Homo sapiens: one gene and its partners. The protein of the gene in region 4 interacts with the protein of the main gene of each other region in a pairwise test. Each region holds a gene or a part of one and is shown on either strand. Other genes may lie near its edges.

Region 1 (7,482 bases), on a different chromosome or scaffold from region 4:
AATTCCTCCCATTTTTGTCATCTTCCTTTATTTTTACTCTTCATTTCCTTTTGATTTCTTAAGCATAAGGGTCATAGGTTTGGTGCTAAGAGTTGGCTGACTAGACTCATTATCTCTGTGAAGTTAGCAACTCTTAACCTCAATTTTGAATTTGAACTTATAATATTGTGGTGTTTTAATAAAATCCACAGGCAATAAGAATACCTAAAGTAGCAGATGAAAAATAAAGCTCTAAATCTGCAAGAAAGAGAAGAAAATCCAGAAATAACGGTAATAATCCTATGATTAATAATCTGAGGCATTATCCAGACTATGACAACAGCACAGGGGCTTTCCCTTTTGAAATCAGCAATAAATGTAAAGCTCATTTCCACATATCCCAAAAATTTGCCTGTAAATCAGCTGTAAGTTAAAAACGTTTGGAAAGCATTTCCCTAAAGGAAAAAAAAAAAAAAAAGGCCCAATGTCTAGTCTCTGGGAATGTTACGAAAGCCTATTAAATTTGCAAGGAGCCAAAGGTATGGCAATTTCAATTTTGCCTTCCTGGAATTATAATGAACTAAACTTCTAAGATGAAATAAATTCATTTGGACCTTCACTGAAGAATTTATAGATGCACTATATACAATGCTTCAAGATTAATCAAACTTTTGGTTATTTGAATTGTGGAAAAGAGGACTTTTGTTCCCTTACAGAATGAAGTCTGCAGGCCAGGTATGGTGGTGTGCACCTGTCACCCCAGCACTTTGGGAGGCCTAGGCAGGAGACTACTCGAGTCTAGGAGTGACTGAGATGAGCCTAGGCAGCATAGGGAAACCCCAACTCTACAAAAAAAACAAAAAGATTAGCCAAGGTGTGGCGGTGTGTGCCTGTGGTTCCAGCTACTCAGCAAGCTGAAGTAGGAGGATCGCTTGAGGCTGGGAGGTTGAGGCTGCAATGAGCTTTGACTGTGCCACTGCATTCCAGCCTGGGTGAGAGTGAGATGCTGTCTCAAAAAAAATAACCACCCAACCCCCACAAAATTAATGGAAGTCCACATCTTAACTCCATATACATCAGTAATTTACATGACTATCTTTCCTAACACAGAGATTTATCTTATTCATACTCCTAAAGTGTAGTACAGTGCATAGTAGTACATAGAAGGTATCTAATAAATGTTTGCTTAGTAAATAAGTGGAGATATAAATCACTTTGGGATTAAACGTATACATTTATATACAGTTGGTGAGCTGCGTTTGCAGAGAACAGGCATATCATAAATAAAATATAAACCTACAATCCCTTATCCTAGATGCAGATGTGTTGCGAAATTCTTATTAATAAGTATTCATGTCTTAGAAAAGTTATCTGGTGTATATATTATGAAATGTGAAATACCCAAGTGATGTCTGTAATCAGGAATATTAAGATTTCTGCAAGGGAACACAAATATTCCTATTAAGTGAAATAAAAACTAAATACAATCTGCTCTATTTGCTGCCACCTTATCAATGGATTCTGAAATTATGGATAAGGGATTATAATCATGTAAAATAGTTTTAATTAACTTTAGGAAGTTTTATCATCTTTCTTCCTCAGCTATTTCTAGGAATGAAATCAAGCAGAACCTCAAAGGTCATAAATTGAGAAACTTAATATAGAAACTAAAAATGTCTAATTGGCTGCTAGCTTGTGCTTCAGTTAGTTAACAATATTTAACTTCCGCGTGTCATACATGCTCTACAGAAGGGGAATAAAGATAAAACAAGGCAGACATTTGCTGCACTCAAGTTGCTCACCAGTTCACAGGAACTTCTAAATTTGTCATATACTGATAGCTATATCAGTCTTTCAAGGATCACCTGGTTTACTTCTACTTTAATCCTAAATGTATCCTCTTAGTTTAACAGTATTTTTCATGATGTTTAAAGATTTCCTCAAAAGGCAATTTCATTTCTTCTTCTCACCAACCATCCCAGCCACAAAGAATATTAAAGATTACAGTCAGAAATGATTCTATGAATAAATAAACCCAGTGACTGAATTTGACCTAAGTTAAAAAACTAATTAATACCTTTCCATAGTAATTCCAGCCCTGGAGGCACTAGATAAAATGGCAGTCAGGGCAATTTGGGAAGGTGTGTATAAAAGGTAAGCATCCGTCAATGCAATTCTATTAAGAAAGTCATCAGCTGTTTTCCTCAAAATCTCTGGATTCTCCAATATGGGATAGCGGGTCTACAAAGAAAGTTTGCAAATGTTACCATTTCTGAGGGTTTAAATGGAGTATAACAACAGTTTAAAAATTACACAACTCCTATTAAGAAATATATGCTATAACATATCTAAAGTTCCTAGCACAGTAATTGACACTGTCCTCAATTTACATTAATCCCTTCTCTTGGTCCTTTTCCACCTGAGTAGGAAGGGGAGGGAAGGGAAGCTCTTAGAGATTCCATTGAGTCTAAAGTAGGGCCAAGAAATACATATTCCCAGGTAAATGCTTCTCTCAGGCAACCCAGGTGATTCAAATGTAAGGCCACATGTAGGAATACACCTTATTTTTATATGAAATTCCTTCTATTTAAAATTTGCTTTCAGGAAGAAGTAAATAAAAATGAATCTCGATTTGATTAGAACACACTAGACTTCGAATTCCCACAGAAAAAGTTTTAGAGTATGCCCAAGAGATGTGGAAGACCTCCTATTTCCTGACAGTTCTTCATACCCTATAAAATAAACTATAAATCCTAAGTCCTCAGATATCCATATGCAACACCTAAAGCACTAAGAAAGCTTTTCTACACTCTGAAACAAAATATTCAGAGTCAATTATGCAAAAATGCCTCACCTGTGATATGACAAATTCAGACCCACTACTCTGACCACAATGCCTCCCTTTCTAATATATTTACTCATTTACTTCACAGCTGTTCTCCCTCCTCTGAACCTTTGCTCACTTATCCCTCTACTTGCTCCCACTCACCAGTGTCCTCTGGTCCTCATTTCTCTCCTGAATTCCCTGCCCCAATATGCTGCCAACAAATTTCTGGCAAAACCAGAAACTGAACAGTGGTTGAATCCAACAAACTTTCGCTTTGCAACTATACCAAGATTTCTGAGGGCTGCCAGAGAAAACCATACAAGCAGAAGTCTGGTAATGTTACTATAAACTCATGTTCATTGACCTCAGCAAGGCTCTTAAACACTGCCAAGCAACCATAGTATTTCCACAGACAATTGACTCTCCTATTTTTCAGTGACTGCATAAATATTTTCCATCTGTCTTAATGTCTTTGATAATTCTCAGAAACTCCATCACTCTCAGAAAACTATCTCTTACCAAAGAAAGGCGCTATTTCCTGTCAACACCAAATCCTGAGGCATAACAGTATCCTAACCCATGATTTCCCCTTTTCCACTGTTAAGAGAAAGAGCTATTATTCCCTCTAAGGCCAGTTCTTATACCTTGCTTCCAAATCCCATGCCAACCCCCTTCCATCTTACTCCAAAGAGACTATTTTGTATTTCATCTTGCTCTCACTACTAGCTCTTTGCCTCAGTATTTAAATGTGCATCAGTCTCTTCCATAAAACAAAACACAACAACAAAAAAACTCTCACCCAGTCAGAAACCTGGGGGTTCTTCCTCTGTCTTCATCTCTATATGCAATCAATCCTCATGTTCTATTGATTCTACCTAACTACAGGCTAAGCATCACAAATCCAAAAAATTCAAAATCCGAAATGCTCCAAAATCTGAAAGTTTCTGAGCACTGACATGACACTCAGGAAATTCTCATTGGAGCATTTCAGATTTTGGATTTGGGATGCTCAACCAGTAAGCACAATGCAAATATTGCAAAATCAAAAAAAAAAAAAGTGTAATCCCAAGTACTTTTAGTCCCAAATTTTTTAGATAAGGGATACTCATCCTGTATCTCTGAAGCCCAGGAAGCTCTTTCTGTATCCACAACCTTCATACGAGTGAAGCCCAGCACTATCTTTTGCTTGGACTCCTTTAACGGTACCCTGTTATTGACTTAATCTATTCTAATCCATTCTCCACGTTATGCCTGACACATACAGATGCGCGATAAATACCTGATCCATAAGGTTGCCAACATGATCTTTTAAAGCTGCAAATCTAATCATGCCACTCTCTAAATTTAAACCTTTCACTAGCTTCTCTTTGCTGTATTCAAAATCTGTAACATTGTCTCCACAGTCTAGACTCTGCCTTCCACTCTGGCAGCAGCTGTCTGTGATCTCTTCCCCCTGCATTGCTAGGCTCTGTTCAGGCTCTTCAGCACGGAATGGTTTCTTGAATTTGAGCTTTTTACCAGGGAAGTCTCTGATTGGAATGTTCTTCTCTCTCCTATTCCTACTCTGAATTTTATTTTAAATGATACGTTCTCAGAATGTTTTCCTTACCCCTTAATCTGTTATCTCCCTCTAAAATATATTTTCCCCTCTGTATCATTGAGCACACTGGATATATGATTGTCTAAAACCTTTAGATTGTAAGGTTCACAAAAGTTGAGACTGTTCCTGTCCTATTTCTGGTTACATCCTCAAGCACAAAGTTTGGCACATAGAAGGTACCCAAATTGAGCCACTGATCTAACATGAATGAACCAATTCCTGATTTGATTCGACTCAGACTATCCAACTTCTCTTTTAGAGCCAAACAAAACAACTTAAAAAAGTTGCTTTTGTCAATGTTTGTTTACGTATATTATTGATGCCTACATAGTGACTTAAGTTCACAAACCTCTAAAAATATAAGTCACTTAGCAATCTTCTAGTTTAAGAATTTTTTATGGTTTAAATCAGGCCCAGATCCATGACAATATAATTCAAAGTTAGAAGAGTTATCTTAAGCCTTTATAGTAAGCACCGTTCTAAACTCTCAATGGTCTTCATTACATCCCTGGATGTAATGAAGATCACTTAAATGAGATTGCAGATCACTTAAATCAGAAACTCTGTAAGTCCCACCCAACAATCTCAGTTAACAATTTCTCCAGATGACTGATGATGCCCACTGAAGTTTGAAAACAACTGCCCTAGATGACCAGGCCAGACCCACAGGTTGTATCCATGCTATAACAACGAGGATGATTATGAGTTTTAAAATTTTGGATTCTTTTGTTAAAGAATAGGAAAGGAGAATGTAGTATTAGTTTATTTTACATCAAGTTTACCTTTAAGTCGATGAGGAAGCCCTCAAATGGTCTGTAAGGATTGTGGACAATAAGGTGGAAATTAAGTTGCTGTATAAGAAGTAGTTCATATTCCAGTATCTGTTCAAGTGCCTTCTCCTGTCCAAGAGGACTCTCCCGGAGGTTTCCAACAAACTGAGGACTAGATACATTGAATTCATCTACTTTGCAGGCCAAAAATGCACAAGTGAGCCTAGAGGAAAAAATAAGGAGGCAGGAGGCAGGGGGTGGGTGGGGTGGAAGAACATGCATATACTTTGAGAAGTATCTAAATAATTTATTTCTAAAAGTATATTCTATAATTGCCTAATATTCAAAAGCGACTGCTAGACATTGCAAGAATTGTTTTTTAAAAGACACTTCCTGTTCACACTTCATTAGGAGACGTAAGACAACTATAAAATTAGGTCAAACCAATATTGCCATGGCATTCAAACATCACTGACTCAATGACAGTGTTATGCAGTACAACCTAAATATCTGGAAAAACAAATTAACTGAGGAATAAGAGTACTTTGTATAATGTAGATGGAAGAGTTAAAAATAAAGCAGTACCCACATATGTACCATGTAAGTATGGGAAGAAAAGTAGGTTAAAGGAACATTGTGGAAGGCCATCGGCAGAAGTCTCTAAGGGCATCTGAATAAGGGACTATTATTTAAGGGACAAACTTGTGAAATTCACCTGGCCACTTCATGCTGTTCAGTATGAGAAAACAGTAAGAAAGCTACTGTAAAAAACAGTTGGCAGTGAGATCAAGGGCCTAATCTTGACTGGTGGAAATGGGAATCAAAAAAGAGAAAACAGGTACAATGTCATTGAGAGCAAACTCTTTGATGAGTTTCATACTAATTTCATTTTTAATGATAGACACAGCGCTCAGCAGAGAGCAGCAACAACAGACCTTTGTTCAACTGAAATGAGTATGAAGCTATAGGATCCGTAAACTGACTGGATGTGGGAGGGGCCACTATAAATGATTCTCAGTCTGAACAACTGGAAGAACAAAGGTGTCTAATAGGAAGAGATGTTAGAGAAGTAGCTAATTTGAGAAAAACAAAATTTGAATCTGGACAAGCTGAAGTTCACATACCATCAGAATTACTGAAGTACAGGTAAACAGAGATCTCAAGTTCTGAATAAAAAAAAAAAAATAGAATTCAAGTCTAAATTACCCTGTATTAGGAAGTCAGTTCTCTCTCTCTCTCTCTCACAATTCTCTCCTCCCAAAAAATACTCAAAAGATTATAAAGGTCTTCTTAAATGAAAACAATATATTAGACAGACATACTCACATTATTATCCTGGGGTGATATTCCATTACTGAGTTATTAAGATAAAAACGTTTGAAATACATACAAGCCGTACCCTAAGGGTTAAAAAAAATATATCATCAGGATCTAGTCACAAATGTTAAATGTTAAATTTTGTGAAACAGAACTTATTTATGGAAAGGTTTCTTTGTAGAGATTACCCAGAAAAATACTAATACTCATTAATTCTTCTTTAATCAAAACAAATTGTGATGAATTACTACAGAAATGCCATAGCCAAAAGATTCTTTCCCATCCTTTGCTTGTCTATCCCCAGCCTACTCTGGCTAATCCTTCCTATGGTCACTGGATTTAAAAATACGTGTGTGTGTGTGTGTGTGTGTGTGTGTGTGTGTATTAGAAATCAGACTATCAAAAATGTTCTGAATTAGATAAATTCAGGAAGAAAAATACAAACGTTCACAGATTAACCAATCTTATAAAAATACTGACAAAAAAACATGGGCAAGGCAATAAGCCTTCTCTCTAAAGCCACTCCATATTTGTGATATAACCATGTATCCATTCCATGATTTGTGATCACTGCTGCCAACTGAATGGCAGAAGCAGCACTACCATTTATTGAATGTATACCATGTGCCAGACTCTGTGCTAAACACGAAACTATCATCATGTTTTAATCCTTACAACAGCTTGGTGAAGTATTACTATCTCTACAGAGAAGGAAACTGAGTATCAATGAGGTTAACTGACTTATCTAGGTCACACAGCTAATAAGGAACAGGAATGAATTCAAGTAAGACCTGCCTGTACTTTTAACCATTATATCATTTGGCTGGAACCAATGAAATAACCACTTATCTATTTTATGATAGAAAAAAGAATATTTCCTTTTAAGTATTTTAAAAGTTTAGTTTTGTCATTATGTAAAACAAAAAATTATTCACCAATGATAAACATGTTATTTAAAAATAAATTCCATAAAGAAGTTCATTAAAGGA
Region 2 (8,178 bases), on a different chromosome or scaffold from region 4:
AATTGCATGTCTGAAAAGCTTTGTCTTTGTCTTATTTAAGCTCCCAATGACCCCATTTTACAGACGTGGAAATTGAGACTGCATGACTCACCCAAAGCCTCTGGATTAGTAAGATACTTAGCTGAGATCTCAACATGGAGCTGCCAGACCCCACCTGTTATGAAGCACCTACAAAAGAGGATGGTGAAAAACCCTCCAGGCTGGACAGAGGGTCTCCTAGAGGGACCACAGGGTGGAGTCGACCCTTGGACTTGGGCTAGAAGCATCTAAGACCCTAATTAAAACAAGGACAGAAGGAATGGTGATAATCGGTCTGTTTACAGAGTGCCAGGCAAGCACTATTATTAGCTCCATTTTATAGACACTCCGCATATATTATCATAGATAGTCTGCATATGTTTAATCTTTCCTACACCCTTACAGGACAGATATTATTATGGTCTCCATTCTGCAAATAGGAGAAATGAGGCTCAGAGGGATGAAGACTTTCTCGTCCACATCCGCCATGCTAGTGAACAGCAGTGCTGGGATCTGAACCCAGGTTTCAAAGAGCATCTATTATTCATTATTTATTGGGGCCTTCCTGGATGCCTGACACTATAACAATAACGACGACAATAATAATACTAATTCCTTGTGTTCCAGGTCATAGAATGTGAAAGGAAAATAAATCTTGGGGCCCCCAAATCACTAAGCTAAAGGGAAAAGTCAAGCTGGGAACTGTTTAGGGCCAACCTACCCCCCATTCTATTCAAAGGCAGCCCTCTGCTCACTGACATAGATGCATTATCTGTTTGTCTCCTTTGGAAAGGCTAATCAGAAACTCAAAAGAATGCGACCATTTGTCTCTCACCTACCTGTGACCTGGAAAACCCCTCCCTGCTTCAAGTTGTCCTGCATTTCTAGATCGAACCAATGTACTTCTTACATATATTGATTGATGTCTCATGTCTCTCTAAAATGTATAAAATTAAGCTGTGCCCAGACCACCTTGGGCATGTGACAGGAGGACTTCCTGAGGCTGTGTCATGGGAGTGTCCTCAACCTCGGCAAAATAAACTTCCTAAATGAACTGAGATCTGTCTCAGATTTTCTGGGTTCACAGGTATGTACACATTTTACAGCATCACCTCACTTAAAACAACAATCCTTATGGTATAACCATTTGAACCCTAATTTCCAGATGAGGAAACAAAACAGAAGCACAAAGTGAAGTAATTTGCACATCCTGCTGGTTAAAGTTGGAGCCAGTTTCGGAACTCATGCCCTGCTCCCCAGCCAACTCAGAAATCTGGCTGACCCTGTCATCAGCACGTGGCCCCAGCGTGTCTCCCAGCCCACCACACCCGCTGGAGCCTCTGATGTTTATAATTCTACCAGGACTGGCTTGAAACTCCCCCTGAATGCTGCTGGGGCTTGTTCCTGCCCAGCCTGTGTTTGCAATGGCTTTGACTGATTTTCTGGAAGGCAAGCCTCTGCCGGGAACACATTCTTTTTAATGGAGTGTTAATCAGGAGGGAAGGAAAAGAAAGATTTTTCTACTGCCCAGCTTCACAGGGGCTGAGCTTCCTGTCTTCTCTCATTTTTCCCCCTAGTATGTTTATTTCTCCCAGGGTGGGATGCGGCAGTGAGAGCCCTGGGCCTAAAGCTGTGCATAGGCCCAGTCCCTACTCCACTCCTATTGCTGACTCATGGCATGACTGTGAACGAGTCCCACCTAGGCCTCAGCCTCCTCAGCTGCAAGATGGGCCTACCCTGCTACCCTGGAGTGGACTGAGGATGATTTTGGAGAAGTATAAGAATGTCAGCCCACCCTTGGCACCTAGTAGGTGCTCAGTAAATCATCACTTCTTCTTTCTGGCCTCCTAATTCCCAGACAACCTGGGTCTGACTCCTTGGTGGCCTTGAACAAGTTACTTTAATCTCTCCGTGCCTCAGTTTCCTCATCTGAAAAAAGAAGATAAACAGTACCCACCTCCTCTGGTTGTGGTATTAGCTGAGATATTATAGGCAACAGCAGTTAGCAAAGTGCTGAGCGAATAGTTAGCACTCAGAGTTACCAGTTAGTGTTACTACAATTACTGGTAAGCCTCAGTTTCCCTGTCTGGGACAAGGAGAGGTGTTTCACCGGAAACCAGTTGCGGTTATTAACACTATCATTGTTCAGCCTTAACGTGCACTTCTAGACTCTGTTATGATGCTGGAGTGCACAAAATCCCGTTTCTTCTTTGTTTTTTAATTCTTTGATATCTGCTTAACCTATTCTTTATATTAAATGCCCTCTGTCAAAATATCCAACATGGTTTCTATTTTCCTGTCTGTACCATGATTGATGAGCACCCAGAGGCCCCAATAGCTGAGTCAGGCAGGTTAAGATCTCTGCTGGGAGCCGGGAGAGAAGTTTTCCGTAAAGATAACTTTGCAGGCTGCATTCCTGAGCCCTGAGGTCACCTGTGTCACACTGTCCCAACGTCAGCTCCCAGGAAACTTTCTCTGGCTATTCCCAGGGCTGAGGGCTACATCCCGGCCTCCCCATTCTCTCTCCCTCCTGCCCCTGACTTACCAGACACCTCCACGTATCCATCTTTGGTCTTCACCATCAACTCCTCTGGCTTGAAGCTGTGCACATTCACACACACTTTCCAGGGCTCCCCAGGGAAGGGTGGGGGGGTCCTGCCCTCGGCAGGCACCCCAAACCTGGCGGTGGCAGTGGGGCCCCGGGGCACCATGCCCGACCTTAGGGTGCCTGGCCAGGCGGAGGAGAGACGAGGCAGAGCCCAGTCGGGCCAAGAGGCTGTCAAGTCGTCTGGGAAGGGGTCCATGCCAAAGCCATCATCCAGCAGGCGAGAGGAGAGGGGAGAGTCCCGGAAGGGGTCTCGGCGCAGGCGGCTTGGGTAGTGGCAGGAGAAGGGCATCTGACCGTCAGCCATGGTGGCTGCTCAGCTCAGAGAGAAACAGAGGCTCAGAGAGACAGAACCACCTGCCCAAGGTCACACAACAAGGTGGTGTGGCTGGGCTAGCTTATTCTTCAGCTTCCGAAAATGCTGCTTTTCTGCAGGGAGAAGCAGAACCAACCACTGCCAGGGACGGTTGTGTCCCCTCGACTGGGGTCCCAGCCCCCAAAGGTAACCCCCGGGGCAGATCCAGCAGAATCCCAGAGGGTCCCCGTCCGCACTGCCTCACGACAGACCGGCAAGCCACCGTCCTCCCAGGCTTCCCAGGCTGCCCAGGCTGGCAGCCAGAACCGCTGAGGTCTAGAGCGGAGCCAGGAGCTTAATAAACCCAGGGCACGCGCGCCTAGAAACTTCTTCTGGCTCCTTCTGGGCTGCAAGCCTTCTATTTATTTGCTGCTGGAGGCTGGAGGCGGGTTTTGCAAGCGTCTCCTGTCACAGGAATATTCGGAGGTGATGAACCAGCCCCGGAGAATCCGCGGAGGGAACAGCTGGGCTGTGGGGGGAGCTGGGAGGGGCCGCGTCCAAGTTCAGCCGGCCTCTCCGGACACTCTCTCCTCCCCTGGCCACTCCGCTCAGCTCCGCCCTCCTCTTGCTCCAGGAGCTGGAGCCGCCCTCCCCGAGCGGGGCACTAAGGCCTGGCTATTAATAACCCCGAGCCTGGCTGAGGGCTCAGGTCACCCTCTGGAAATACCTTCCCTAGAGCGTGTCGTATCCTGCCTTTCCCCTGGGGACCTGCAGAAAGGGAAGAGAGAGACAGGAGCCCAGTGGATTTGAAGGATGGCCCTGGGTTGCAATCCCCACTTACAAGATGGCCAAGCTCCTAGAGCCTCAATGCCCTCTGGGGAGATTGGTAAAGGAAAAAAAAAATTTTTTTAATGTGTATATATATATTCATATGACGCTTGTTAAAGTATGACAAGCAAGACTTTACTGGGCAGGGAAACTTTCTCCATAGATGTAGGGACCCCTGCAATGGGATTTTGCAGTGAGGGAGAAAGATTAGACTTGATTCCCAGTAGGTCATGGGTAAGTGTGAATTTGTAGCCAAGAAGCAGGTGGGGGGTCAGCGAATGGAAATTTACTAGGAGGGAAGTCCAGGAGTCAGAGGGATTCGGGCTCAGCTAACCTAAGAGGATTCTTGCTGAAGACAGGCCAGGGTGCTCAGACATCACCTGGGGGACCGCGGAGGATGAGGAAACTAATCAGATATCGAGGGTGATCAGAAATCGAAGATGGGTGGTTGCTACTAAACAGACTTAGCAGAGTTCATGCCAAAACTGAATTTTTCTTTCTTTCTTTTCTTTTTTTTTTTTGAGACAGAGTCTCACTCTGTCCCCCAGGCTAGAGCGCAGTTGCGCCATCTCCGCTCACTGCAACCTCCGCCTTCCAGGTTCAAGCGATTCTTCTGCCTCAGACTCCCGAGTAGCTGGGATTATAGGCACCCGCCATCGTGCCCGGCTAATTTTTGTATTTTTTAGTAGAGTTGGATTTCACCATCTTGGCCAGGCTGGTCTTGAACTCCTGACCTCATGATCCACCTGCCTCCACCTCCCAAAGTGCTGGGATTACAGACGTGAGCCACCTCGCCTGGCCCAAAACTGAATTTTTATAAGGAACCTCACTGATGGGCTTAGGAGAAGATTCAGAAATCCGATTAATGTTTGGTCAATCAAAGCATCTTTATAGGCAGTAACATTATTCCCAGGCACCTCCAGGTTGTTAGTTTTCCTCCTTATAAACGGACATAACAGTAGCCAACTCACAGATGTACCATGAAGAATACATGAGGTAATTCTCTTTCTCCTTGTATTTTCAATTTTGAGTTATCAATTACATAATGTTTGCTATATGCCAGGCCCTGCTCTATGGGCTTTATAAATATGAATTCATTTAACCCTCACCAGCAATCCTGTGAGGTAAGAGTACCAGTATTATCCCATTTTACAGATGAGAAAACTACCATAGAAGTGTTCATGAATAGTAGCTTCTATTATTATTATGACTGTTAATACTGATAATTATTGAAAGATGTTACACTCAGGCAGGAGGTCTGGTCTGAAACTCAAAGCCCCAAATCTAGACTTTCCTGCTCTTCCCATGCAGCTGGAAGAATGAATTTACAAATCCTCCTTTGGCTTGGAGGCCTCTTCGGCTTGGGTTCTAATCTTTGATCTGTCCGCAACAGGCAGAAAATTTTAGGCATGTCGTTTTCCCTGTGTGGGCTTTCGGGTCTCAGCCCTGCCTTCTTCACGAGATGAGGGTAAACTGAGGATATTAAGGAATTCAGTGAGTCATAGGTTGAGAAATTGTTTTGATATTAAACAGTGAGTGCATGAGGCAGTTTGCTAAAAATAATAATACGGAGAAAAACAATCACTGTCGCCCATTGCCTCCTGTGCGTCTGCTTTTAGAGTTAGTACATTTCAGACATTACTGAGTTAAATCCTGACTCGATAGTTAAACGTCACTATTATCATCACCCCCATTTTGCAGGTGAAAAAACAGAGGCACAGAGGTTTGACCCTTGCACACAGATATGGAGTGGCAGAGCCTGGGTGGGAACCTGGGTTGTTCTGAATCCCGGATCTGTGCTTAACCGACAGACAGAGACCCCTGCCCTCCTCCCCAGCTGAGAAAGAATGGTGGGGACCCCACGGCATGACATGTCCCGAGTGACTGGGCCCCCACTGGATGTAGGGTGAGCTCATCAGGCTGGAAGCTTCGGGCTGACGTCATGGCTGGGCACAGAAGCTTCAGCTCTCTCTGTAATTACAGCTGGGCGGGGCTGGCTGAGTTGGAAACCAGTTGTGGGGAGAATCACTGCAAGCCGCATGACGCACCGGAGAAACCTGGCCCTGCCTGGGACCTGGGCAGGGGCTGGGGTGAGGTTTCTGAGTGGGTGGGACAGAGTGGAATGAGTTTGTGTGCGGATTTGAGTGGGTGCAGGAGTGAGTCTGTGTTTATGCGCCGATAGGTCTGTGTTTGTTTATCGCCGAGTCTGCTGGTGGGTATGTTCAGGAAGAAACTCCCCTCCTTTTCCCTTCCCAGGCCATCCCCAAACCTCCAGAGGACCCCTCTGCCTCAAATGAGGCTCAGTTGGGACCAGGGGACCTGGAAGGAGGGGAAGCCTGGCGAAGGAGCAGGGAACCGAGCTGTGATGACCTAATCCACCTTCTCATTTCAAGGATGAGGGGGACGAAAGGGAGGATGCAAAGGTAGAAAATAGAAATAACAATCACTGGCATTTACGGGGCACTTGCCCCGTGCCAGCTTCTGTTCTGAGCACTTTAAATGTATGTTCCTAAACTCTTTTACTTCTCCCCACAATCCTATTAGGAAGGATGTTTTTAATTTATTTATTTATTTTGAGATGGAGTTTCACTCTTGTTGCCCAGGCTGGAGTGCAACGGCATAATCTTGGCTCACTGCAACCTCTGCTTCCCGGGTTCAAGTGATTCTCATGCCTCAGCCTCCAGAGCAGCTGGGATTGCAGGCACCTGCCACCACCCCTGGCTAATTTTTGTATTTTTAGTAGAGACAGGTTTTCACCATGTTTGTCAGGCTGGTCTCGAACTCCTGACCTCAGGAGATCCACCCACCTCGTCCTCCCAAAGTGCTGGGATTACAGGCATGAGCCACCATGCCCGTCAGGAAGGATGTTTTATTAAACTCATTTTAGAGATGAGGAAACTGAGGCACAGAGAGATTACCTGACATGCCTATGTCAGTGGCAGAGCTGGGATTTGAACCCCGGGCAGTTTGGTTCTTGTCTCATCTGCTACACTGCCTCTGAAGTCAAAGTCATGGCTCACATTTATTGAACACTAACCATGTACCCGGCCCTGTGGTCAACAGTTTTATCCATGACCTCATGGAATCCTTGTGGTTCAGAGAGGTCAAGCCACCTGCCCTGGACCACACAGCTGACCAAGGATTGGAATCCAAGCCAGGGCGCACTTGGCAGTGCACGGTAATAACCACTATGGGACAATATTGGCCCAGCCTTGCCCAGCGAGCCTTCCACACTGCCTGGTGTCCTGTTCCCCCTTGGGCTCTCATTGCATTTCTGGATCTGGTCAGCCCTTCATTTCAGGAAGCTGAGGAGGGAGGCAGCTGCTCCTGCTAACTCGGCCACCTGGTGAGGAGTTAGCTAACACATGAGGAAAGTGGTCACTAAACCCCATGGGCTGTCACCAATCAGGTGAAAATATGACGCCAGGCTCAGGGGAGGCCCGGGAGAAGAAGGGGCCTCCAAGCTGGTTCCGCCAGGGAAGAAGAGACCTTAGAGGGGACTGTGGTACAGGGGAAGGATGTTAGATCCTGGGAACCAGAGCCACGTTTCTCTTGGCTGCCATCCTCATAGAGCTTTCGTACGGGGCGTACCACCATTAATTCTCAAAACAGCCCAGGAGGTAGGTGAGATCACCCTGCATGCCTGAAACTGGGGACCAGCTGGTGGGGACAGAGTAGTCTGAAGCCACACAGGTAGTGCTGGGACCAAGTAGGACAAAGACATAGCTGCCAGATTCTGTGCCTTTTCTTTTCAATGTAGTAAGAAACAAAAGTTCCCACCCTCCCCTAGGGGATTCCCAGCCCCCAGCCCCTCCCCAGGGTCTGAAGACCCATCTCAGAGTTAGTTCTTTTGGGTGGCTCTGGATCCCAGCACATCCTCCAGAAAATAGGAAGTAAGCATGCTCATGCCTTTTTATTTCTTTTGTTTCTCAGACCCCCCCTACAATGACACTAATGGAATTCCCAGCATACTCGGCTCCATGAAAGCAGGACCCTTGGGAGTCCTGTTCACAGTAGCATCCCCAGCGCCTAGAGGGAGCCTGCTGCACTGTAGAAGCCCAGCATATCTTGGATGAGTAGATGATGTCGTATCAGCAACCCTGGGTCTGAATTGCCAACTCCCACTGGGTAGACTCTACATGCAGTAACAACATCAACATATTAACTAATTTCTGCAGTCCATAGAAGGTGCCGGGCACCAAGGTTTCCCAAGCGTGCTCTTTTTAATTTTCATCACAGCCCCCTAGAGGTTTTATACTATCATTATTCCCTTTTTACAGATGAGGAAACTGAGGCAAAAGACATGAGGTGACCTGCCTGAGGCCACCAGCTTATGGATTCTGAACCCAGGTCTGTCTGAACTTTAAGCCCAGGCCTCTTTTCTCTGCCACACACCCCAGCAAGAATGAATAAATAAACAAAATAAAACAAA
Region 3 (7,774 bases), on a different chromosome or scaffold from region 4:
CCTACACTGTTTCTATGGTGATTTTTTTCAAGACTCCACATACAACCGATATCATATCATATTTTTCTTTCTGTGTGTGTCTTATTTCACTCAGCATGATGTCCTCCAGGTCCATTCATGCTGAATGCTACAAGATAAAATCGGAACATCTTATGTGCCTGAAAGTAAAGAATTCCTCAAAAAATCATATGGACATGTCAAAAGGATAAAGGAGGCACCACTAAAAGGCTCCCACTGGCTGCTCAACAGAGGCCCACACCCTCCCGCAACTTCTCGGCCTCATCAGTGGGTGGACTGCATGTTCCTGTGGTAGGAAACACACCCTCCCCTCAGAGATCTGAATCTCTAATCTTGCAGGTGGGGAAGGGAGCATTTCCTTTAACTTAAGTAACTCCTTTATTAACTCTTCTTCAGCCCTAGAAGTAACAGCTCCTTTTCGTAGCTGCTTCTTCTGTATCATAGAGTCCTCTTTTAGTAACTGATCATCTTTTACTAGAAAATAATTCTTTAAATTTTTCCTGTTAAAATCGCCAATATGATATCTGTTTCTGAATGGACCCTGATTGATATAAAAACGTATCACTTCCCTTGCATTTCTATCCAAAAAAAATGCAAACTTAAATATAATCATGAGGAAATGATAGCCGCAGGAGGCAGACAAATGCCTAGGCAGATCCCCAGTGAAACCCCATCTCCAAGCTGAAGACAGTTTAAAGCCTGAAAGCCAAGCTACAAGTCAAATCCATGGACCGGATTAAAAACCTGTCTTCCCATTTGGCACATTTTTCTTTGATTGATCCCCACCTTTCACCCATTTTATATACACCTACCCTTTCCTAATTGGTTTTCTACACTGTCGTGCCCACCTTTGAGTGGTGTCTTCACTTTAACTGTTTTTGCATACTCACAAACCAATCAGCACACACTTTCCATTCTGAATCCATAAATGCCCAGACCTAGCCACATTGGGTGAGAAACCACCTGACTGCAGGGGTGGGGGACCACCTCCACCTACCACATCCCCTCTCCGCTGAGAGCTGTTCCATCGCTCAATAAAATTCTTCTCCATCCTTCTCATCCTTCAAATTGTCAGCATATCCTCATTCTTCTTGGATGTGGGACAAGAGTTCAGGAACCACCGAATGCAGATACAAACTATAACACAGGCAGCAGGTCAAGTGAGGCCTGGGGGTTTTGCGGGGGGGGGGTGTCACTAGCTATGGACGGGTCCCTGGTTGGCAAAGTGACCGAGAAAAATCCTACATCAGATATATCAAACAAAACCAAAATGAAAGACATTCTACAAAACAAGTGGCCAGTACCTATCAAAATTTCAAAGTCAAGTAAGATCAATGACAACTAATTACAATGTGTGACTCTGGCTTGGCTCCTGTGATTGTTGGGAAATCGGAAGTAACTATACATAGCATCTATTGAAACGTGATAAAATTTTGAATACAGACTATGGATTTGGTAATATTGTATTAATACTGTAGTTCCTGATTTTGATGAGAGGATGTCCTTGTTTCTAGGAAATACACACTGATATATTTAATGGTAATGGAAGTTTACTCTCAACCTGTTCAAAATAAACTAATGTATATGGAGGGGAAAAAGATGAATTTAGGTAAAATGTGTACCAGAGTTCTTTGTATTATCCTTGCATCTTCTCTATAAATGATAAATATATTAAAATTGAAAGTTACCAAAAACTATATTTAGTCCTTGAAATATGGAAAACATGATCATTTTGAAAAGCATCTGAGCCGGGCTCAGTGGCTCACACCTGTAATCCCAGCATTTTGGGAGGCTGAGGCAGGCAGATTATTTGAGTTTAGGAGTTCAAGACAAGCCTGGGCAAAAATGTGAGACCCTGTCTCTACAAAAAATACAAAGATTAGCTGGGCATGGTGGCTTGCGCCTGTGGTCCCAGCTACTTGGGAAGCTGAGGTTCTAGGACTGTTAATTACCTTCCTCTCTTATGATTATACAGAACAGGAGGCATCCTTCCCATTTGATTTCAGACCAACAATCCTAGAACTGCTTTCTAAACAAGGTGAACAATTTACCTTGTGTGAGAGAAGGCAGTGTGGGTGTAGGTTTATTGTGGGGAGTGTGCTTGTTAATAATGAGGCTAAGAAAGGAGGCAGGCCAGAAATGCAAACAAACAAACAAAAAAAAATTCTGCTCATTTCAATTTTTGCCCCAGCAAGAACCTTGAGCTCAGTTCTCAGAGGTGAGAATTCTAACACAGAAAGCACCCAGAAAGGGCACTGAGGTCTGAGAAGCAAGGAAGTGACCCAGGTTGTTTGCCTCTGGTCGGAAAGGGAAACTACCCCTGCTTCCACTCTGACAGCAGACAAGTTAATCAACCTACTCAATTGCATTTTTGGCCCATTCCCCATTTCCAACATGAACAGTTCCTCCCCTCCAGCCCAATGCCACTCTAGGCAGTCACCAAGAGGTAAGATTTCTGAAATCAAAACTTGAATTAACCAACAAAGGAACATCAATTCTAGAACGGATTGTAACAGGGATTTTTGTCTTTTTTCTCTGCTGTATCCCCAAGATCTATATTATATATTCTGTGGTTTTGGCACATAGTAATTGCTCAGTAAAGCTGTGTTGAGTTACTTGATAAAAAATAAGTCAGTAGAAATAACTTAAATGCTCAACATTAATGTCATTGGTTAAGTAGCAATGCATAGAACTAAATATTATGCTATTAAAAAGTTTATTTGTAAAGTCAAGGATATGGAAAAATATTTGATACATACATATCTTTTTGAGATAGGTTCTCACTCTATCACCAAGGCTGGAGGGTAGTGGCAAGACCATAGCTCACTGCAGCCTCCAACTCCCAGGCTCAAGCAATCTTCCAGCCTCAGGCTCCCAAGCAGCTGGGACTACAGGTGTGCACCACCAAGCCCAGCTGATTTTTTTTTTTGAAAGAAGGGGTCTCACTATGTTGCCCAGGCTAGTCTTGAATTCCTGACCTCAAGTGATCCTTCTGCCCCGGAATCCCAAAGTGCTGGGATTACGGGCATGAGCCACAGTGTGGGACTGATACATTTTTGAAAAAAGGAAACAACATATATTCATGAAGGAAATACACACCCTCCTGGTGAGTTTATGTATGATTTTTGTTTTGTTGTTTTCTGTGTTATCTGATCACAAATTACTTTCATTTTCAGGAAGAAAAAAATTTAATTTTTTTTTTTATTGGGGCAACATCCAACCCAGATATGATTACTACCTAGCCTGAACTGAATGTATTACTAATAAACAAAGAAATGCAGAATGGCATACAGTCGGTAAAGCGTAGTGCTTGAGAGCATGGATTATGGAGACTATTTAAATACTGGCTCCATAACTTAATAGCTTGGGACCCACGGTGTTACTTAGCTTCTATCTGCTTTAATTTACTCATCTGTAAACTTGGGATAAGATACTTCCTCATAAGGTTGGTGTGAAGACCAAGTGAATTAACTATCGTTTAAAGCACTTACAAAAGTGCCGGGCACCACCGAGATATGCATCCGTTAGCTTTTATTATTATTAGACTCAAAACACTGTAGTAGTTCTAATGAGAGGGGTAAGAATCAAAAATCCAGGCACCTGCATAGAGCCAGAGAGGCACACATAGAAGCAACGTAAGAGTGGAAGCGGAATGAAAACATGCTAAAGCCAGGTACAAGCCACAAGCGAGGGTCCACAGGAAGAAATTGTTAATTCTGAAGAGAGTGAATGCACGAAGTTACAGGAAAAATAACATCTGAACAGAGTTTAAGAATGAGCAGGACTTCAACAAGTGGCTAGTAAGACATAAGGAACCTACAAAAGATCTTAGCAAAGGCGCAAAGATTACCATCGTATTGCTCGTTTCTTCCTACTTTGCAGAAGTAACCTCTGGCGAACAGAGGTGGTTGCAGAGCATGCTTATCAAGCAAAATACCACGAAGCAGTAAGGAACGACAGAGATAACAGTAACAATAATAATTCACCCCAAGGTACTCAACTGGAAAAAGGAAATACAGAGGAGAGGTGTCGTTAAGAAAGCCAGGACGCACATCACGGCCCCGTCGCTGCACTACTCTCGTCTAGGGGTCAACAGTGGAGTCGAGACTCGAAGCTTCCACGCGGCGGAACAGCGTCCCTCTCAGGCGGCGAACGGGCTAGGGAAGCGCCCGGAGGAGACCTAGCGTGAGAACTACAACTCCCGCGGAGCCCGAGGGCGAGCTGCCTGCGTAACTTCCGCTTCCGCCACCTGCCCCTCTCACCCTCTTCACTCGAACCCTACCCGGGAGCGGTCAGGCGCGTGACCCCGCGTGACCGGGGTGCGCGAGCCGAGAGGCCCTGGAAGCGGGACTCTGGGACCCCATTGAAAGAAAGGCAACCAGAAAAGGCGAAACGACAACCTCGATAGTGATTGGAGCTGATGGAACGAGGGCGGAGCTAAAGTCCCAGAATACTGGCCAATCAGAGTTTAAGATTATCAGGGAGCCCGGGAAGGGGAAAGGGGCGAAATGGTTCTATGGTCACATGCCGCGGGGTCTGGTGGGAGGAGCGGTTGCCCAGCGGCCTCTTGGCGCTTCCTGTTTCCGGTTCCCAGAGTGGGGCACAGCGAGGCGCTAGGGGGAACGCTGGCCTCTGAAACTAGCTCTGGGACCGGGGTCTGCGGCCGGCCCCTAGCTGGCCCCGTCTCCCATCCCCAGAAGGGTATTCACTGGGGATTCTGAGCTTTGGCTACTCCAGTTTCCCACGACACGTGAGTGTGAGGGGCGTGGAGGAGGAGGCGGGCTGGGTTGCGCTCACACTTAAGCGTCTGTGACAGGAGCCGGAATCGCATTCTCCCTTGACCATGGTTCTAGCCAAAGATCTGGCTGAGGAGCCCTAAGGGTAGAATGGAGGCGGAGGCATGAGAGCGGAGAGTCACGGAGTTCCGAAAGGTGTGAGGGAGAAAGGACTTCCAAGACCAGAGAGGGGATTTACGATATTTAGAAAGCAGGGAAAGGAAAATACCCCAAGTATGGAGTCCGTTGGAGGTGTTGGTGGATTTATTTGTAGGAGGAATTTTGGCCTGCATCACGGTGGGAGGTCAAGTGGCATCATTTGGAGAGGGTATGGCTACAAGCGCTTGGAAAGTCGGGACACTAGACAGAGCGAGAATTTCTGGCACCCTGGGAGAGCTTTGAGGGGGATGCGACTGTGGTGTGGATAAGAATGGCTGATGGACGGATTATCTTGTGTTCCTCGTTGTGGGGAGCTTCCGCTCTTGGGACATAGCCGCTACTTGTCTGAGGCTCCTTCTCTCTTGAGTTCTTTCAGCATTAGGCCTTTTAGCCAATTGAGGCTGCTTTTCTAAACATGTAGGCTGCTGGAGAAAAAGGGATAAGGACTGCTACATCAGAAAGGAGCCAGCGGGAAGACAGTAGAAATTCCACTGGTAAATGGCCATGGCTGTCTTAACAGATGGGGAAGTGAGTGCTACAGAGGCCCAGTGGTGTAAGCTGCTTCCCAGTTGCTGGCTTAGTCATTGGCCACCCTAATAAAGGATAATTTTTAGCATTGCCAAATAAAATAGATCTGTCGTTAGAGAATAAGAAAACTGAAAGATTTTTCAAGATCATAAAATCCTGCTCCTTATTTCCAAAGTATATAGACAAACTCTTGTACCTTGAGAATCTAATTGTAGCATATTAAAAGGGGGCTACTGGGCCCTTCCATTTCATTCTCTTCCTGATTGTTGCACCCCTATGTTTATAAGTTTTCCAGCAGTTATCTTTATGCCACGAATCGTCTAAATTGCCCCAGTAACTTCACACACATTTAATATCTGTGTAATGTACAGCAAGTAATTTAACAAGTAATTCTGTAAAGCATCAGTTTTCTCATCTGTGAAGTATGAAAAATTATACCTATTTTCTGGGTTGTGAAGATGAATGAACATAATCTAGGGAAAACATTTAGCGCATATGCCACTGAATTAAAGAGAAGCAGCTTAAATTTAAAGACAAGCCTTAAGCAGGAAAGAAGAATACAGTATAAATTTATTATCCTAACTTTTTGAATAATAAGCAAATGAAAGATAGTTCAACTCAGCTAATGGCTGAGGTGTTTAACCTTTCATCCCTTCCTAATTTTGTGAGATTCCTTGTTCTAATTTAGGAAAAGAAATCAACTGTCAGTTTTTAATTAGGTCCTGAGAGACTGGAAAGGAAAATGGCAGGCTAAGTCAGTCTAGAAGAAGGAGTCTCCTATTTCTTTTTAGTGAGTCAGCTGGTCAAGTTGTGTGTTGAGCAGTGGGTTAACTTAGGGAAGGTGGGAGTTGGAGGTCTGAGTTCTTTATTTCACCTCCTATTCAGTCAACTGTGTGAGGAATCACTTCCCCTTCACTTCTTAGTAGAAAAAAAAAAAAACCCACAGTTTTGGCTGTCTACTCTCATCTCCAAAAAATTGTTATGCACATAGTGGAAATATACATGTAGTTGTTCAACACAGACCATGAGCTCTGGAGCTAGACTCTCTGGCTCACTCCACTAGCTGTGTCTCAGTTTTCTTACTGGTAAAATAGCAACAATAATTGTATTTACTCATAAGGTTGTGAGGATTAATTAGTTAATTAATATATGTTAAGTGCTTTGAACAGCACCTGGCCCAAGGCAGTAGTCTGTTGTTTCCTGCTGTTGTGTGGTTTCAGTGCATTAAATGTGTTATGAGGGCCTTGGACCTCTTGGTTAGCTATGATTATTCTATGGAAACTACCATAATATTACAGTAGAGAATTGATGTTTGGGGTACAGGAAGTCAGGTAGACAATTTCCCGGGATTTTTTGCTTTAGTGGGGTGTGGGAAGTGGAAGGTCAGATGTTAGGTTGTTTAGGGGAATGGGGAAAGTGCATTCACGGCCAAGGTTGGAGCTTCCATTTTCCCATCTTCAAACTCATTAGTACCCATGAAAATTCTGCCTGTTTCAAGTTTTATATTTTAAAAATGAGGTGGAGTAAGTGGACCCGCATGAAAAAGAACTAGAGAACTTTAAAGAATATTCAAACCAAAGTCCAGACTTGCAGCGTTTTTTGTAAGTGAGAAAAGTTTAGAAGAGTTAAATCAGGAAATTGTCCGTGATACTCTTGGAATAAACAAGTAGCAATGGCCTGAGGGATCATTAACAGATACCAGAGTAAAGTGTTTTGCAAGGGTAAGTCAGTCTGTCCTGGGTATGAAGATGGATAAGAGAAAAGAAAATGTTAGGTTTTGGTGGGGTTTTTTTGCCAAAACCACAATGACCTTTGCACCAGTCTAGTAAGTTTGGGAAAGAGAGCTGTCTGTGTGTTTTCATTCCTAGAGCAGTACAAGCAGCAGGTGCATTGAATTTACTCAATTGTAAAGTGGCTTGGTGATCCCCAATTTGTTGTCATTGATTTGTAGTGTAAAAGACAACTGTACTTATGGGAAGTCTAGAAACCCTTGAGATTTGTGACCTGTAGAGGCCAAAGAGGTTTCAGAAGACTACATCAAGCCATCAAACAGTAAAGAGGCAAGGATGGCTCCACCCAAGCTGTCATCATTCTTTTTTAAGTTCTTTCATTTCCCTCTTCCCAACTTTGTAGTTTGTTCTGAAAGACTCACCTATACATTAGACTACAAGTTACATATAAATGAATTTTCTGCTGCAGATGCTCTTGTTACAGAGATATTAAAATGTACTATGTGTTGCATATGCCAGAGAATCTTGTACTTTCTGGATAATTAAAATACCATCGATTTATTA
Region 4 (7,487 bases):
TGATCGCCTGCAACCCCCAAACAAACAAAAGCATTAATGACTTCCAAAAGGATGAAAACATGGATGAAATGTGCGGTATTTCTTTTTTTTTTGAGACAGAGTCTCACTCTGTCGCCCATGCTAGAGTGCAGTGGCGTGATCATGGCTCACTGCAACCTCCGCCTCCTGGGTTCAACCAATTCTCCTGCCTCAGCCTCCTGAGTAGCTGGGATTACAGGCACCAGCCACCATGCCCAACTAATTTTTGTATTTTTAATAGAGACGGGGTTTCACCATGTTGGCCAGGCTGGTCTCAAATTCCCAATCTCAGGTGATCTGCCTGCCTCGGCCTCCCAAAGTGCTGGGGTTACAGGCGTGAGCCACTGCGCCCAGCAAAATGTGCAATATTGCTTAGAGAACAAAATAATGTAACATTGATTACACTACTTAAATTTTCAATAACCCTTACAATCTGATTATTTCTCTTTTTAAGAATTTATATTCTTTCTGAAAACAGATCTGAACTAAAAATTTCAATTAAACAAAATCTTCCTACAGAAATTTAAGAAAATAAAACATTAAGTACTTTTCAGCTACTGAGACAAGATAAAATATCCAAAGGATATAAAATAGTTTACCTGCACTTTCTACACTTGTAGAGAACCTCATCTTTCAATCCTTGTGAAACGGTAGTTGGGTCAACAGCAAAGAGTTCTTGAGGTAAATTCTGCAATTCTATATGACATAATTAAAATGTATTTATTTGTCAAAATCAACTCTGCATTTTCAGATAAATTCAGTTAATGTCAAATTGAGGCAACAAGTGCTAACCTCAAAAATTAAAAAAAAAAAAAAATCAAATTCCAGTGTTGAGAAATCAGGCTAAGGTAGGAGAGGACAGTGATTTAAGTGCTTAGGTTCTGGGCACGGGCTGCCTGAATTCAAATCCTGACCCTGCCATTTATAAACCATGTGATTTTGAATAGGTTATTTCTGGCTAAATCAGTTTCAAAAAGAAACAATAGTTTCTCAGGGATTGCTGGAAGTAAGGTAAAGCATACAATGCTAAAGTAAATGTCATCTAGAAAGCCCATTACACACTAGCAATTATTACTTACCTGGATACTTCTCTGTAACCTTTTGTAAACGATATTGCTTATAAATTGCACTAGAGGTATCCACTTCGTATCCCATTGCCTGGTATAATTTCAGTTGCCACTCAAACCCCTCATTCATCCTGTAATGATAAAGAAATATAAAGTTTCATTTTCTTAAAATTATATCACAAAAGCATAATTATTACTATAAAAAAAGAACCCACTTAGCCTCTGGTTTGAGAATCTGGAGCTTTTCATAGGCTTTTTCAAAGGGAAGTTGGTCAGTCTTCATGAGAAAAGCAGTTATTATGGCCACACTTCGACTGACTCCTGCATGACTGAAAAAGAGACCTTTAAAATAAAACAGCAAATAGCAACAATTAAAAAAAAAAACACACAAAGCCCAGCCCCCTATTAATAGTAAAGTTTAGGCCCACTTCATTTTTGCTTCTCAAATAAGCCCATTGCCTCTGAAATATTATCAAGGTACAAAATAATTATTCCTTTTTCCTTTTGAATTCTGAACCACGTGAATCTATTACCTATTCAAAAATAATAACAGTAATTTTTAAAATTTTTATAATGGCTCAGAACAAATCCAAACTCCTGGCTAGACACAGTGGCTTACCTACGCCTGAAATCCCAGCACTTTGGGAGGCGAGGTGAGAGGATTGGTTGAGTCCAAGAGTTGGAGACCAGCCTGGGCAACAAAGTGAGACCCCACCTCTACAAAAAATTAGCCGGATGTGGTGGGGTCTGTAGTCCCAGCTACTCTGGAGGCCGAGGCAGGAGGTTCACTTGAGCCTGGGAGGTTGAGACTGCAGTGAGCCGTAATTACGCTACTACACTGTAGCCTGGGTGACAGAGCAAGACCCTATATCAAAATAAAAATAAATAAAACAAAACAAAAACAAATCCAATCTCCTTTCATCTTAGCATTCAGGGACCTCAAAATCTGGTCCCAGACTTCTTTTGATTTCATCACTATCTTCTTTTATGTGCTCAATAAATTTAAACGATTATTATACTCCAATCCAACCAAGAACTGCTTAGGGATTCCCATTTTCTTTTTTTGGGGGGAGGGATGGAGTCTCGCTCTGTTGCCCAGGCTGGAGTGCTGTGGCATGACCTCGGCTCACTGCAACCTCCGCCTCCCAGGTTCAAGTGATTCTCCTGCCTCAGCCTCCCGAGTAGCTGGGACTACAGGCGAGAGCCACCACGCCCGGCTAATTTTTGTATTTTTGGTTTCACCATATTAGCCAGCCTGATCTCGAACTCCTCACCTTGTGATCCTCCTGCCTCCCAAAGTGCTGGGATTACAGGCGTGAGCCACCGCGCCCTGCGGGATTCCCATTTTCTTTTTGTCTTTGCTGCAACCATCTCCTCCCTAGGCAAAGCCCAGGGATCCTTTAGATCCAAACCAATTCATCTCTTCATCAACCACCCGCCACCCATCCCAAACAAAAACATTTAACCCTAAATCTTTGTAAATCCCGTTTACAAGACACCAAGCAACCTAATCTGCATTACAATAATCGGGGTGGGTGTCTAGCTTCTCCAACAGAGCTGTAAACTCCTTAGGGTGTAGGTAATTTGTCATTTATCAGATGACACCTCCCCCGCCCTCTGCTGCTGCAGGAAGAACCAACTAAAGCATGAATGAATGAAAGCCTGCACACACCAGGGGCCCGCCTCAACCCTCCTCCTCTCTTGGAAACACGCCTCCTGCGGGAGGCAGCGGGAGGAGGTTCACGCGGCATGACCGCGCTCTTGTCCTCCCGACGGCCTCGGAAGGTAAGGGGCGACGGGGGCCGGCTGGAAGCTTGGCGGGGCACGTCACCCACTGACCCGGCCACTCACCAGTGCACCAACACCGCACGGCCCTCAGCGCGGGCCTGACCGATGAAGGCCACGCACCGGTCCAGATGGCTGAGTAGGTCCGTCTCGGGTTTGTCCAGCGCTGGCACGAAGAGGCGCCATAGATCCTCGACCCCAGGCCCCGCCTTGAAGCTGGGCTCCTCCGAGTCCACTGTTAGCACGGCCGTGATGCCCGCTTCCCTCAGGTGATCTGGCTCCGCGACGGCCGCGGCCCCACCGAAATACAATCCTGGCTGCACTTCCAGCATCTGCCCGGCACAGCTGACTCTGCTGGCGCTGGGGTTGCTGAGCTCGCAGCCATCACTCGGGCCCGGAGCCTCCAACATGGCCGCGCCCAGAGACAAGGCGGCTTCCTGCCCTACCATCGAGTAGACTCCGGCTAGAACATCCTTCCCCTGGGACTCGCCAGCCTCGGCGGCTCTGCTGCTCCCTCGGAGGACCACGTCGGCCGCAGGAATCTGGACTTATCGCTGAGGGGCGGAGCTTCGGCCCCATTCAGCGCGGCCTTTCCACCCTTGTTCCCTCTGACCCCTACCCCCAAAGTTGATGGTGAAGGATAAGCTTCCCCAAATACAGGGTTTCTCGAGCTCTTAGTATTGAAATTTTCAGGAAAGAGACATCAGGAGCAGCTGAACTCAAATGTGAAATAAATGTCGCACCAGCTGAATCAGAAGCATCATTTTATGCATTTGAAGTAAAATTTTTTTCAATATTATGGAGCCATCTTTACTGTGCATTTCATGATTATTTTTCCTTTTTCTGCCCAATTTCATTATTGGGGTGTGAATCCTTGTTGATGTTTACTGTCTATTTATTTTGAAGATACTAATCCTATATTTTTGTAAGTCAATGTCCTCCGGCCAGGACTACAAGAAACCAACTTTAATTAAGCAAGTTGGTTTTATTACTCAGTCATGAGTTATGGAGAATTTCAGGGCATCTCAGCACGAGGATGTTAGGAAGATCCTCTACAGATTTTGGGCTTTTATTTGGGGATTTTGGAAAGGGTTGAAGGAAGCAGGCTTTGCTCCAGACTGAATGCTGCAGGAAGATACTCAGTACAGTGAGTATATTTTATATATCTTTTGTATAGGGAGGACAGGTGAGAGAGATACTAAAGCTGTAATTGGTCAAGAAGTAGCAGCTATAGTACTGGTATAAAGATAGATACATCGACGTGTCTCTATTCTGGAACAGAACAAACCCTTGCGTGTGGAGTCCTAATTAGGGAAAAGGAGTCAGGCTGGCTGGACGAAGGGAAGCAAAAGGAGAAAGCAGACAAGCCATAAGTCTGCCTTTCTTCGTGGTCCAGGACACATAGCCCTGCTGTGCAAATAACTCACAATCTGCCTGTGCCCAGCCATCACCAGACCCTCAGCTGATAGAAAAATGGAAGTTAGTTCACTGCAACCCTGGCATTATTAGTACTGCACAAAGCCCTCTTCCACCCACAACATAAGCACCATTCTACAAAATCCCCAGCAAGCCTTTGTTTCCTAGCAGTCAGCTTCTCTCTTGCTGACCTGCCTGTTGCACCCTTGCAATGTATTTTCATACTTTATCTAATAAACCTGCCTTTCTTTACCTACAACTGTGTTGGTAAATTCTTCCTACCACCCATGTCACCAGCCCAGAAAGCTGCTAATCACCTGCAACACTGCATATATGTTAGAATAATCTTCAAAAAGAGTGCCAAGACCACACAATGGAAAAAGGACAATCTCCTCAACAGTGTTGGGAAAAACTAGATATCCACATGCAAAAGAATGAAGATGGACCTTTACCTTGGACCATACACAAAAAATAACTCCAAATAGATTAAAGACCTAAAAATATAACATTCTTAGTAGAAAACATAGGGGGAAAGCTTCATGGCCTTGGATTTGATAAAAATGTTGAAACAGGTAAGGGTTAATGGTCTCATTGTCTAAGGTGTTATCCGAACTTGTCTAACGACCGAGAAAACTAAGGAGCATGGGCACAAAGAGTGAGGTTGAAGCAAAAGTTTAATAAGCAAAAGAAGAAAGCTCTCCACAGCAGAGAGGGGAGCCCAAGTGGGGTGCCATTTTTACAGCTGAATTCAAAACCTATTATAAGAAACTCCTCTCATCTCTATAGTTGTTTGAGTAACTTCTCTTATGAATAAATCTGTCTGTGCAACTTCCCTTATCTTCTGCCGATGTGGGTATGTCTCTAGGCAAGCACAAAGCGTGGGTTCTCTTGTTTGTATCACTGTAGGTTTGTTTTAGGTAAGCCCCCCTCCTTCCTGTGCAAGTTCCCACGGAGTCCACTGTGTATATACCTGAAAAGGGGAGGAAAGTTTTTCCTGGGAGCTCGCCAATTACACGAAGAATGAAAAGCGTCTGTGCTGGACCCTACCTGCTTATCTGTGCAGGTGCAGCCTGAGTTTTGCCTAAGCTGCTCTATTTTGTTTGTAGCTGTGATTTTTCAGGCAGACTGCTTCTCCAAGGGCTAGCCTTAGCTGTCTACCTAACTGATTTTTCCTTTTCTTCTCCCTCAATTTTTTGGATAAAATACCAAAAGCACAGGCAACAAAAGCGAAAATAGACAAATGGGACTATATCAAATTTTAAAGTGTCTGCATATCAAGCAAAACAGTCAATAGAGAGAAAAGGAATTTGTATGGAATGGGAAAAAATAATTGCAAAGCATATATCTGATACGTTAATATGCAGAACATATAAAAAACTCCTACAACTCGACAACAGAAAAACAAGTAACCCAATTTTCAAAAAACTGGGCAAACGACCTGAATAGACATTCCTCCAAAGAAGATATACAAGAGGCCAAAAAGCATAGGAAAAGATGCTCAAATTGCTAATCATTAGAGAAATGCAAATCAAAACTACAATAATAATATCATCTTACACCCATTAGGATGGCTAGTATTTTTTTCAAGCACAGAAAATAAGTGTTAGCAAGGATGTGGAAAAATTGGAACGCTTATGCATTGCTGAAGGGAATGTAAAATGGTGCACCCACCAGGGAAAACAGTACGGAGTTTCCTCAAACGATTAAAAATAGAATTACCACATGATCCAGCAATCTCACTTCTAGGTTATATAGCCAAAAGAATTGAAAGTGGGATCTCAAAGATATTTGCACACCCATATTTATGGCAACATTATTCACAATAGCAAAAAGGTAGAAGTAACCCAAATGTCCATCATGGATTAATGGATAAAGAAAATGTGGTATGGGCCGGGCGCGGTGGCTCACGTCTGTAATCCTAGCACTTTGGGAGGCCGAGGCAGGTGGATCACCTGAGGCCAGGAATTCAAGACCAGCTTGGCCAACATGGCAAAACCCTATCTCTACTAAAAATACAAAAATCAGCTGGGCATGGTGGTGGGTGCCTGTAATCCTAGGTACTCGGGAGGCTGAGGCAGGAGACTCGCTTGAACCCAGGAGACGGAGGTTGCAGTGAGCCAAGATCATGCCACTGCACTCCAGCCTAAGGGATGGAGCGAGACTCTGTCTCCAAAAAGGAAAGAAAGAAAGAAAGAGAGAGAGAGAGAGAAGGAAGGAAGGAAGGAAGGAAGGATGGAAGGAAGACGGAAGGAAGGAAGGAAGGAAAGAGAGAGAGAAAGAAAGAGAAAAAGAAAAGAAAGAAAGAAAGAAAAAGAGAAAGAAAGAAAGAAAGATGGTATATGCATATGATGAACTATTATTCAGCCATATAAAAAGAGGGAAATTCTGTCACATGCTACAACATAGATTATCTTTGAGGTCGGGCACGGTGGCTCATGCCTGTAATCCCAGCACTTTGTGGGGCTGAGGCTGGCAGATGACCTGAGGTCAGGAGTTTGAGACCAGCCGTGCCAACATGGCGAAAACCTGTCTCTACTAAAAATACAAAAAAAAAAAAAAAAAAAGGCGGGGCCCAGTGGCTCACACCTGTAATCCCAGCACTTTGGGAGGCCAAGGCAGGCAGATTACCTGAGGTCCGGAGTTCAAGACCAGCCTGGCCAACATGGTGAAACCCCATCTCTACTAAAAATACAAAAATTAGCCAGGCATGGTGGCAGGCGCCTGTAATCCCAGCTACTTGGGAGGGTGAGGCGGGAGAATCACTTGAACCCCCTTGAACTCATGCCACTGCACTCCAGCGTGGGCAACAGAGCGAGACTCCATCCTAAAAAACAAAAATGAAAACAAAACCTTAGCTGGGCATGGTGGTGCATGCCTGTAATCCAGCTACTCAGGAGGCTGAGGTAGGAGAATCCCTTGAACCCCGGAGGTGGAGGTTGCAGCGTGCCGAGATCGCATCACTGCACTCCAGCCTGGGTGACAGAGCAAGACTCCATCTCAACAACAATAAAAACTTTGAGGACATTATGCTAAGTAAAATAAGGCACGACTGTAGATGCTGAGGATATAAAGATGTATGACAGTCTTTGCCCTCAAGGAACTTGGTGAAATGCTGGAGTGAAAGTAAGTAAATAGCTAATTAGTGTTATAGTAGAGGCAAGGGCCGTGTACTAAGGGAGCACATGGAGGCATCCAATCCTA

The links.
Region 1: the proteins of DUSP12 (region 4) and CCNH interact in binary tests that used the Homo sapiens proteins (3 or more experiments, as listed by UniProt).
Region 2: the proteins of DUSP12 (region 4) and HSPB8 interact in binary tests that used the Homo sapiens proteins (3 or more experiments, as listed by UniProt).
Region 3: the proteins of DUSP12 (region 4) and M6PR interact in binary tests that used the Homo sapiens proteins (3 or more experiments, as listed by UniProt).

The regions. Positions count from the first base shown.
Region 1 is NC_000005.10:87,402,788-87,410,269, forward strand, and holds part of CCNH (cyclin-H), read right to left. Parts: intron 6,577-7,482; coding exon 6,503-6,576; intron 5,400-6,502; coding exon 5,189-5,399; intron 2,221-5,188; coding exon 2,057-2,220; intron 1-2,056. UniProt on the Homo sapiens protein: Regulates CDK7, the catalytic subunit of the CDK-activating kinase (CAK) enzymatic complex. CAK activates the cyclin-associated kinases CDK1, CDK2, CDK4 and CDK6 by threonine phosphorylation.
Region 2 is NC_000012.12:119,174,065-119,182,242, reverse strand, and holds the start of HSPB8 (heat shock protein beta-8), read right to left. Parts: upstream 3,313-8,178; 5' UTR 2,931-3,312; coding exon 2,564-2,930; intron 1,077-2,563; exon of another isoform or gene 41-1,076; intron 1-40. UniProt on the Homo sapiens protein: Involved in the chaperone-assisted selective autophagy (CASA), a crucial process for protein quality control, particularly in mechanical strained cells and tissues such as muscle. Displays temperature-dependent chaperone activity.
Region 3 is NC_000012.12:8,946,482-8,954,255, reverse strand, and holds the start of M6PR (cation-dependent mannose-6-phosphate receptor isoform 1 precursor), read left to right. Parts: upstream 1-4,610; 5' UTR 4,611-4,768; exon of another isoform or gene 4,769-7,201; intron 7,202-7,431; exon of another isoform or gene 7,432-7,540; intron 7,541-7,774. UniProt on the Homo sapiens protein: Transport of phosphorylated lysosomal enzymes from the Golgi complex and the cell surface to lysosomes.
Region 4 is NC_000001.11:161,745,595-161,753,081, reverse strand, and holds the start of DUSP12 (dual specificity protein phosphatase 12), read right to left. Parts: upstream 3,297-7,487; 5' UTR 3,281-3,296; coding exon 2,937-3,280; intron 1,428-2,936; exon of another isoform or gene 1,415-1,427; coding exon 1,301-1,414; intron 1,217-1,300; coding exon 1,098-1,216; intron 715-1,097; coding exon 618-714; intron 8-617; coding exon 1-7. UniProt on the Homo sapiens protein: Dual specificity phosphatase; can dephosphorylate both phosphotyrosine and phosphoserine or phosphothreonine residues. Can dephosphorylate glucokinase (in vitro).